2 separate regions of the Homo sapiens genome follow, and region 1 is linked to region 2. Evidence: fine-mapped expression QTL. A gene starts in region 2. The other region holds a variant in brackets. All regions are shown on one strand. Distances are from middle to middle.

Region 1 (5,374 bases), 31 kb before region 2:
GAGATAGAGAAAAACTCTATCTCAAAAAAAAGTATATATTTATATCCATACATACAGAGGTCTAGAAAGTCTATAAGTATGGAGAGAAAGCTGGAAAGATATAATGAAATGTTTACAATGAGCTTAACCAATTATGAAATTCTGGGTAAGTTTCTTGGTCCTTTTTGCATTCTGTATTTCTTGAATTATTAGAATAAGAGAGTATAATTGTTGCAAAAACAATAAGATTATTTTAAAATAGTATTCAATAAGCCAAAAGGGAATAGAGAAATTTAAAGTTCATCTCATTCAAATCAACACTTTGTATGCTTTTCCTTGACTATGCAATTTGACTATGGTGCTGTAGTTTTCTTGCTGCATTCCCAAAGCAGTGATCTATACCAACAGATACGGTGATTAAAAATATTCATATGTCGTCTTTATAGAAAGATGCTGAAAGTATATAAAAGATCTTGTGGCATACTGTAAAGTAGGTATCTTTGTAATAATCTCTCATATCCTTTACTTTTCTTTCCTAGTAATTAGCCACATTTATAACTATAGGTCCATTGGAGTGGTTGGTTATTTGTATCAACTCTGCTTTTCCTAGTGGTATGCTTCAAAAATGGCAACATATTCTTCCCATCCCCCATATGTATGCCCCTACATAATGACTTTGCAGGGGCTCCCAACAGCCTGTCAATGTCAGACCTCTGGGTGAAGCATTTTAGGTAATCTGGCTTGCAGTCAATCTACCAGCTGACCAGTCACACAAGGGAGCCCAGCATAGATCAGCCACGCTGCCCTAGCCCAGTCAAACTACAGGATTGTGGGCTAAACAAGGGGTCCTGTTTAAGACAATAAGCCTCAGGGTGGATTGTTATACAGCAAAAGCTAACTAATACAGATCCCCCTACCTTTTTTGTGAGACAGGGTCTTACTCTGGTGCCATCATGGCTCACTGCAACCTCAACCTCCTGGGTTCAAATGGTCCTCCTACCTTAGCCTCCCAAGTAGCTGGGACCACAGGGGCACACCATCATGCCCAGCTAATTTTTGTATTTTTAGTAGAGATGGGGTTTCACCATGTTGCCCAGGCTGGTCTCAAACCCCTGAGCTCAAGTGATCTGCCCACCTTGGCCTCCCAAAGTGCTGGGATTACAGGTGTCAGCCACTGCACCCAGTCTCTTTTTTTTTTTAAAGAGAGAGTCCCACTGTGTTGCCCATGCTGGAGAGTAGTGGCTTGATCACGGCTCACTGTAATCTTTAACTCATGGGTTCAAGTGAACCTCCCACCTCAGTCTCCCTAGTGTCTGGGTCTACAGGCGTGGGCCACCACACATAGCTAATTTTTAAAACTGTTTTGTAAAGTTGGGGTCTTGCTATGTTGCCCAGGCTGGTCCTGAACTCCTGGGCTCAAGCAATCTGCTGGCCATGGCCTCCCAAAGTACTGGGATTACCGGGACGAGCCACTACATCCTGCCTTTTTTTTTTTTTTTTTTTTAATGGAAAGGTTATCTGAAGCTGGGCACAGTGGCTCACGCCTGTAATCCCAGCACTTTGAGAGGCGGAGGCAGGTAGATCACTTGAGGTTGGGAGTTCAACACCAACCAGCCTGGCCAACATGGCAGAGTGTGGTGGTGCACGCTTGTAATCCCAGCTATTCGGGAGGATGAGGCATGGGAATCGCTTGAACCCGACAGGCACAGGCTGCAGTGAGCTGAGATTGCACCGCTGTACTCTGGCCTGAGTGACAGAGCAAGACTCTGTCTCAAAAAAAAAAAAAAAGAGCCAGCTGTGGTGGCTCATGCCTGTAATCCCAGCACTTTGGGAGGCCAAGGTGGGCGGATCACAAGGTCAGGAGTTTGAGATCAGCCTAGCCAATATGATGTAACCCTGTCTCTACCCAAAATACAAAAATGAGCCGGGCGTGGTGACGGGTGCCTGTAATCCCAGCTACTCAGGAGGCTGAGGCAGGAGAATTGCTTGAACCCGGGAAGCAGAGGTTGCAGTGAGCTGAGATCATGCCACTGCACTCCAGCCTGGGTGACAGAGAGAGACTCTGTCTCAAAAAAAAAAAAAAAAAAGTAATACACAGGCAAAGAAGACCTCCATTATTGGGCCACTGGAGTATGAAAGATCCATATTTGCAGAAATTGTCTAAATTTCACAAGGCTAGATAGTTCTTGGTAATGTTCTTTTGTCAGAGTTTAGTCCCTCCAGTGTCTAAGGCAGCATTACCCCTCTTTTCAGGATTCATCCTGAATGTAAAGGGAAACTCTAAAGTGTGACTGAGGCAGGAGAATCCTTTGAGGCCACGAGTTCAAGGCTGTTACTTCCATATTCCCTTTTGGCCTATTGAATACTATTTTAAAATAACCTTATTGCTTTTATAACAATGATACTTTCTTAATGTAATAATTCAAAAGCTAGGCACAGTGGCTCACGCACTTTGGGAGGCTGAGGGGGGTGGATCACCCGAGGTCAAGAGTTCGAGACCAGTGTAGCCAACATGGTGAAACACCATCTCTACTAAAAATACAAAAATTAGCCGGGAGTGATGGCAGATGCCTGTAATCCCAGCTACTTGGGAGGCTGAGGCAGGAGAATCCCTTGAACCTGGGAGGCGGAGGTTGCAGTGAGCCGAGATCACGCCACTGGACTCCAGCCTGGACAACAAGAAGGAAACTCCATCTCAAAAAAAATTGAAAAAAAATTCAAGAAATACAGAATGCAAAAAGGGACCAAAAAAGTACCAAAAATTTCAAAATTTTGTAAACTGTACCAAATCTGGATACGAAGC[G/A]TTATTTTTGCCCACAGGGCACTTCCCTGAAAGACGTTACAATAGCTAAGACTCCTCTCAGATAGAATAGAGAGCAGTAGATAGCTCTTATTGAGTGACATTTCTGTTTTACCCTAAGATGTTACCTACCTTGACACCTTAAGATGCTACTAATTTCCAGAAGCCTGGCCCTAGAAGTTGCTTTCACCTGGACTCTATTTAGTGAGTGATCTGAATGAGAATTCATCTGTCCAGTTTCCAAAATAGAAGAAAACTCATCCCACCTGCGACACATCAGATTACAAAACTGAAAACTGAAGAAAGCTGTAAAAGTCTAGGTAAACACGACCCCCAAGAGCTCTGAAGAAACAGCATTACTTGTGAAGAGAGAGTGTCCCCACAGTTAAGCCCTAACTTGGTATGTCTGGGGCTAAAGTGACTGCCTAGTCTGTTTGGTCTGCTATAACAAAATACCATAGACTAGGTAATTTATAAACAATGGATATTGATTGCTCACAGCTCTGGAGGCTGGGAAGTCCAAGATCAAGGCACCAGCAGATTAGGCGTCCGGTGAGGGCCCATTCCTCAGAGATGGTGCTGTCTACGTGTCCTCATATAGTGGAGGGGGCAAAAATACAGGCCTCTTGTATTTATTTTATTTTATTTTATTTTATTTTATTTTAAGACAGAGTCTTGCTCTGTCACGCAGGCTGGAGTACAGTGGCGTGATCTTGGCTTGCTGCAACCTCTGCCTCCTGGGTTCAAGCAATTCTCGTGTCTCAGCCTCCCAAGTAGCTGGAATTACAGGCATGCACCACCACACCAGCTAGGTTTTGCATTTTTTGTAGAGACAGGGTTTCAACATGTTGGCCAGGCTGGTCTTGAACTCCTGGCCTCAAGCGATCAGCCTGCCTCGGCCTCCCAAAATGCTGGGATTACAGGCATGAGCCATGGTGCCCAGCCCCTCAGGCCTCTTTTATAAGTGCACTAATCCCATAGGATATAATCACCTCCCAAAGGCCCCACCTCTTAATACCATTGCATTGAGGATTAGGTATCAATGTATGAATTTAGGGGGGACACAAACATCAGACCATAGTGGTGACTAAGGTCCTTAATAGAATCCCAATCTCTGGAGTCACTGAAGAATAAATTATGATTAATTCACTCACTTCAGAAAACAATTTGGCATTCTCCTGTAAAGATGAATCTATACACAACCCACAACCCAGCACCCCACTCCTAGGCTTATACCTTCAAGAAACGTGTACCTGCACACCAGAAGACAGGTTCAAAAATGTCCATAGCAGCATTGTTTGAAATAGCAAAACAATGGAAACCCAAATGTCTATTAACAGGAAAACTAATTTTTAAATCGTGGAATATTCACCAAAGGAGTATTTTACAACACCGAAAATGCACAAAATATAGTAACATACAATAACGTAGATGAGTTTAGAAGCTTAGTGTTGAGTTAGAAAAGCAAATGTTATAACTCTATATACAATGCAATATATTTTTACAAAGGTCAAAAATAAACAGATCTAAATAAGATTGTTTAGAGAGACATACATGTGAAAAAAAAAAAAAAAGCAGGCTGAGTGCGGTGGCTCACACCTGTAATTCCAGCAATTTGGGAGGCCGAGGCAGGCAGATCACTAGAGCTCACGAGTTTGAGACCAGCCTGGGCAACATGGAGAAACCCTGTCTCTCCAAAACTACAAAAATTATCAGGGCATGGTGGTGCACACCTGTAATCCCAACTGAGATGGGAGGATGGCTTGAGCCTGGGAGGGGGAGGTTGCAGTGAGCTGAGATGGCACCACCACATTCCAGCCTTCAGAGTAGAGCCAGATCTTGTCTCAAAAAAAAAAAAAAATTAGGCCAGGTGTGGTGGCTCACTCCTGTAATGCCAGCACTTTGGGAGGCCGAGGCGGGCAGATCGCCTGAGGTCAGGAGTTCAAGACCAGCCTGGCCAACATGATGAAATCCCATCTCTAATAAAAATACAAAATTAGCTGGGCATGGTGGCGGGCACCTGTAATCCCAGCTACTTGGGAGGCTGAGGCAGGAGAATTGCTTGAGCCCAGAAGGCGGAGGTTGCAGTGAGCAGAGATCACACCATTGTGCTTCAGCCTGGGCATCAGAGCGAGACTCCGTCTCAAAAAAAAAAAAAAAGAAGAACCAAATACAGGAGGAAACAGAAAAGCCTAGACACTGTGCTCACAAAGTGAAGTAGCGTGCCAAAGGCTCAGGACTTTCTCCCCTGACTACAGGGGCTGATCCCAGGGACATCAGAACTAAGAACAGGGAACACTCTGCTCCCTAAAGCTGTTCTTTCTGCATTTTGGATAGTAACTCCTACCATTCTCCCACTCCAAAATCCTTACAAAAATCCTTGACCCGCCCGTCACCATCACCCTACACCATCAATCAGTTGCCAAATCCTCTAACCTCCACCGTCAGCATGTTTTTCACACAGACGCCTTTCCATGTATTCCACTGCCCCCATCCCAGTGCAGTCCCTTTATTAACCTCCTCCTTGACTTCAGTAATATCTTCAGTATTGGTCTCCTTGCCTCATCTCTCTGCTCTCATCTGTTGGCCCACCTC
Region 2 (5,374 bases):
ACACCCAGCAAATTTTAACTTTTACCTCTTCCCTCAACTTTGGAGAATGATTAATTTTCCAGACTCTCAGACCCAATCGGAGGGATTTTTTTCTAAAAATGAAACCAAATATAATCCCAGCTCACTGTACTCCCTACTTTGTAGCTCCACACTGTCCAGAGATGGCAGTCTCTTCTCCCTGTCCAGACATGGCCTCACCTTTGTAAAACACACCCCAAACACCCTTCTTCTCTGATAGCAGCCAGGTTTTGAGACGAGGTACTTTCTTGAAGTAGGCACAGGTGCAAACAAAGAGCAAACCAAACACCAGAATCCCATCCAAGGAGTACACTGTTAAATAAAGAAGAAAAGAAAACCTTAGGTACTGATCTAGCGTCGGACCTGTGATCCCGCCTGAGAACTCTAAGGAAGATAGTGTGTGACATAATAACAAAATAATAACCTCAACAGGCAGTACTGACACTTGACAAGGGGGAGCCAGGATCCTGGGACTAACACGATTATTTTACTGTTCCCAAAAATTGCTTGTAGGAGGAAGGGGGATCAATTGAGCCCAGGAGTTCGAGGCTGCAATGAACTACGATCATGCCACTGCACTGTAGCCTGAGCAACAGAGTGAGACCCCAACTCAAAAAAAAATTTTTTTTTTTACATCCCCTTTACTAAAATGTCACTGGTCCTTCCCCTCACCTTTCAAGAAGTAGAAATCCTGGGCAGAAATTAGCATCCCAGGAATGACTAGTGTTGGCAATAGATTGAGACATATGAATCCTTAGAGACTCAGCACAGAGAATTTAACATGTTCTTGTTATAAATCACTCATATGATAAAGGAGAGCTAGATATGTAGCCAAAACTGTCAGATGTGCAACTGTTGGTGAAGAATATGTTAAGGCAAAAAATTAAGCTTAATGAAAGTTGCAAGAGTAAGAATCCACATGACTACAATTTTCCTATCATTATCTTACACTTTATGGATGATACTCTTAACAAACCGAATTTCTGCCAGAATAATAACAGATTTTTCTAAAACAAAGAAAAAGTATCTAAGGCTTCAACATAGAAAGCTTTAACTTCTTAGCTCTGTTTCTTAAATACATAAACCAAGCTTATTTCTTGTACAGGGAAGCACAATGAATCACCTAATTGCAAAAAACAAGAAGATATTGGACCACAAAATGGGGGAAGAATGACTAAAATTTATTCAGCAACTACCGTGTCAAACTGCTGTCTTACTTCCTGGTTCAGATTCTGTCTTCCTCTGGGTAAATTCCCTTTTCTTACTGTGCCTAGTATCCTGAGACCTCTGACTTCCCAGGAAGCTCCAAATGAATATTATATATAACCAGTGTCTGCCAGTTCTAGATCACACTACCTCTCTTCCTCCAGTAAAACTGTCTCACAGCTAAGCTGTCACTAAGAAAGGGTCCAGCAAATTAATACATACACTAAGGTTTTCTGAGGAACTATACCTTCACGTGCTACCCCTTTTCTCTCATAAGTTTCTGCAGACAATGCCAAAATTCACAAGGAGGTTAAATTCGAGTCTTCAGTGCCAGGTCTATGGACAAAGTACTTTTGAGAAATGCTTTCCGGAGCCCCTCAAATCATCGTAATGCCTAAAAGGCTTTCTCTTCTCCTTTCCTGTAAGGTTGACACTAAAAATCATGAAGGCCCTCCTTCCTGTCCTCCTCTGGAATTCAGAATTCATAAAGTGTTTGAAGAGGCCTGGAAAATTAGGTCAGATAAACTGCCTCATCATCTAGAAGAGGCAGTGTCTAAATCCACCCTTTGCAACACTAGTCAGGGTCTCCACGTGGGATCACCCCGCCAGGACTTTAAAATCAGAAATCTTTCCGGTATTTTTCCGTAAGAAGAAGCTTTTGTGGGGTCTACATTCACCAGCAACCCCAAAAGTGTGGGACTTGATATTCTATGTCATTTATTGGCCCTCTCAACAAAACTACGGTCCGAAAGCATGAGAACGCAGGGAGCTGGGAGGAGGAGCCTCTCTCTTCCCCGGGTTTAAATAGCAGTAGTACCTCTGGGACTGACCTCTCCAAGGGCCAGAAAGAACTAAGAAAAAGAAAAGGGAAAGCAAAGCATAGGGATAGATAACTCGAGGTGTGAGCATAAGAGGCACTGGGGGTCCTAGATGAATATGGGAAGGGGGAACCCGTAGAGGAGTATAGGGGTACAGAAGTTAGGGGCGTCGAGAGGCCAAGGGGGGCCGGGCTGGGAGGGGGCGGGGAGAACGGCCACGTCAGTCCCGGCCCCGCCCGCCACGTTTTCCCTTCGTCCTTCACTCCCACCCTCCGCTCAGGGCATCAGTTCTCACCGTTCGTCATGGCGGCTGGCCCTGGACCTGGGTAGGGGGTCCGGGTTCAGTGGTAATAGCGGCGGAGATGGGGGAGCGCCCGCTTGACACTTCCCGATCCGGGCCGAGGTGACTGGAAGAAGCCGTAGTACGCAGGAGCAAGGGCCGAGAGGCGAGCGCCGAACGCTATCAGGAGTGGCTAGCCGATTGTCGAGCTCGGGAAACTGCGTGTTTACGTAGGGTAAGAAGAACGCTATCTCGAAGGCTTCGTACTTGGCCGTGGTAACTAAGTCTTTTCTGCGTGCCCCTGCGGGCGTAGGGCTGGGGCTGGCCCGCGTCAGTGTGTTTGAAAAGGTAAAGGCTTGTAGTTTTGTAGTTTATTTTGCGCCGTGGCGGCTGCTGTGTGTAAGCAGCAGCCTACCTATGAGGTTTTCATCGTCCTGGGCTTCCACTTGAGAGAACTCCAGCACCGCGGGTGAAGAAGCCGCACCTGCGGCCTCCGTGACTGCCCTTGAGCTGCTCTTCCTTACTCCGGATGGAAATCTAGTCAGACTGCGTCTGAACGTTGCAAATGAAATGAGGAACCTTGTAACAAAAACAAGTCGCGGCCGGGCGCGGTGGTTCACGCCTGTAATCCCAGCACTTTGGGAGGCCGAGCCAGGCGGATCACCTGAGGTCGGAGTTCGAGACCAGCCTGACCAACAAGGAGAAACCCCGTCTCTACTAAACATACAAAATTAGCCGGGCGCGGTGGCTCATGCCTGTAATCTAAGCACTTTAGGAGGCCGAGGCAGGCGGATCACCTGAGATCGTAGTTCGAGACCAGCCTGACCAACATGGAGAAACCCCGTCTCTACTACAAATACAAAATTAGCCGGGCATGGTGGCTCATGCCTGTAATGTAATCCCAGCTACTCGGGAGGCCGAGGCAGGAGAATCGCTTGAACCTGGGAGGCGGAGGTTGCGGTGAGCCGAGATCGCGCCATTGCACTCCAGCCTGGGCAACAAGAGCGGAAACTCCGTCTCAAAAACAACAACAACAACAACAACAACAACAAAAACCAAGTCGCATCTTTCAGATCCTAAAGCACCACGTCGTCGGAAAACATTCAAAGGGTTGCCCGTTTGCTTGTGTGAATTTTTCTTTTCCTTAAACTATCAGGAGAATCTCGATTCTCCTGCATTTAATTAATGCTGGGATCACTTCAGCCACTTTAACCAGAAATCGGCGATATCTAGACACCGCTTCTCTGAGGACACTTTGACAACGTGACAAAAGACATTGCCAGTCTAATGATGGGGGTGGGGTGGAGGAGACAAAAGTACAGATTCAGATTTGCATACTGAAATCCTTAATTGCACACAACTCGGCCCGCTTTATTAGAGTTCGGGCGGAAGTGCGACACCGAGTCCTCCAAGGCTAACTGGAGGGTTAAATTATACGGTTACTAATCCGCCGTGCTTGTCAAGGGCCTAAAGGGACTCTGCCCCTTTCTGCTGCAGTGCCATCTGCTGGCTGCAGCCTGCTTGGTTACCCAGAGGGAAAACTGCCAAAGCATCCTCTGGAAGCTGGCCTGGAAAGACAAGCCAAAGTCTAGTGCAGGACAGATGCCTTGAGAAAATATACATACATGCAGAAAGAAAAAAAAAAAAAGACGGCGTATATACGGGACAAAACCTAGGACAAGGCCAGGCAGCCACTCAGATTATATATATGTTTGCACATTCACACACAGACAAATTCCCCTGCCCAAAAGAACTGTTCAGGACCACTCAAAAACAAAACAGAACAAAAGCTCTATTGTTTAGGCCTTCGAATCCTTCATCAACCATTGTCTAAAACAGCAGCAGCTGGCCGGGCGCGGCTCACGCCTGTAATCCCAGCACTTTGGGAGGCCGAGGCAGGCGGATTACCTGAGGTCAGGAGTTCAAGACCACCCTGACCACATGGTGAAACCCCGTCTCTACTTAAAAAAAAAAAAAGAAAAAAGAAAAAAAGAAATACAGAAATTAGCCTGGCATGGTGGCGTGCGCCTGTAATCCCAGCTACTCGGAAGGCAGAGGCAGGAGAATAGCTTGAACCCGGGAGGGAGAGGTTGCAGTGAGCCGAGACAGCACCACTGCCCTCCAGCCTGGGCGACAGAGCGAGACTCCATTTCAAATAATAATAATAATAATAATAACTGCCCCCCTTTGGCCGGGCGCGGTTGCTCACGCCTGTAATTCCAGCACTTTGGGAGGCCGAGGTGGGCGGATCACCTGAGGTCGGGAGTTCGAGACCAGCCTGACCAACATGGAGAAACCCCGTCTCTACTAAAAATACAAAAGTAGCCGGGCATGGTGGCACATGCCTGTAATCCCAGCTACTTGGGAGGCTGAGGCAGGAGAATCGCTTGAACTGGGGAGGCAGAGGTTGCGGTGAGCTGAGATCCTGCCATAGCACGCTAGCCTGGGCAACAGTGAAACTACGTCTCAAAAAAAACAAAGAAAAGAAAAAAAATTGCCCCTCTTGTAATCCTACAGCCATCACCTTAGTAATTTTGCTATATCGGTAGTCTTTAAGTATCAATTATGTCCTCACAACAATGAAAACTTACATTTTTATAACATTTTGACATTTTCAAAGCAAACACACCTTGTCATATGATCTTATTTAACCCTCACAACTGCCTGATTACCCCTGTTTTAGAAATAAACCAAGGTTTAGGGTAAGGACTGCCAAGTATTACACTGGCACAATAATTCCAGCCTTCTGAAATCAGGACTAGAAAATTTTCCTCCATACCACACTGGTGTTTCCTTTGACAGCAACCACTACCTACTGAATAATGCCTAAGTCCTTAGCCTGCTACTCAAGGCCTTCCAATAGTATTTTCCACTGTTCCCTATATGGGCTTTAAGCTTTGTCTATAAAGACTATGTTCTTCAGTTACAGTCTTTGCTTTCTCATTTTTGCTCATGCCACTCACTTTTTAGAGATAATTTTTTCTCCCCATTTTTTTTTAACTAGATGAAAACCTCTTCAGTTTTTGTCATACTCTGAAAGACAAGTCTTTCC

Alleles and levels. Positions count from the first base shown, and alleles are read on the strand shown. Sizes are in standard deviations (SD) of each study's normalised expression.
For the expression in whole blood of the gene that starts at base 2,456 in region 2, allele A in region 1 goes with a higher level than allele G (moderate effect, 0.45 SD a copy in GTEx).

Evidence for each region. PIP is the estimated chance that this variant, and not a neighbour inherited with it, causes the effect. A credible set is the group of variants that fine-mapping cannot tell apart.
Region 1: its variant is the best candidate, but not a certain one, in a credible set for the expression of TMEM167B in whole blood (GTEx, PIP 0.54).

The regions. Positions count from the first base shown.
Region 1 is chr1:109,118,466-109,123,839 of GRCh38, reverse strand. The region is part of intron 1 of ELAPOR1 (endosome-lysosome associated apoptosis and autophagy regulator 1); the gene reads right to left. Among named protein-coding and RNA genes, the nearest start is that of ELAPOR1, 7.0 kb to the right of the region's middle. The variant G/A (reference allele first, on the strand shown) is at 2,783.
Region 2 is chr1:109,087,846-109,093,219 of GRCh38, reverse strand. TMEM167B (transmembrane protein 167B) reads right to left here and starts at 2,456. Exons shown (of 3, transcript NM_020141.4): 1 at 2,338-2,456; 2 at 199-330. The coding sequence starts at 2,347. It also overlaps the pseudogene NDUFB3P1. RefSeq lists an enhancer at 2,623-2,822.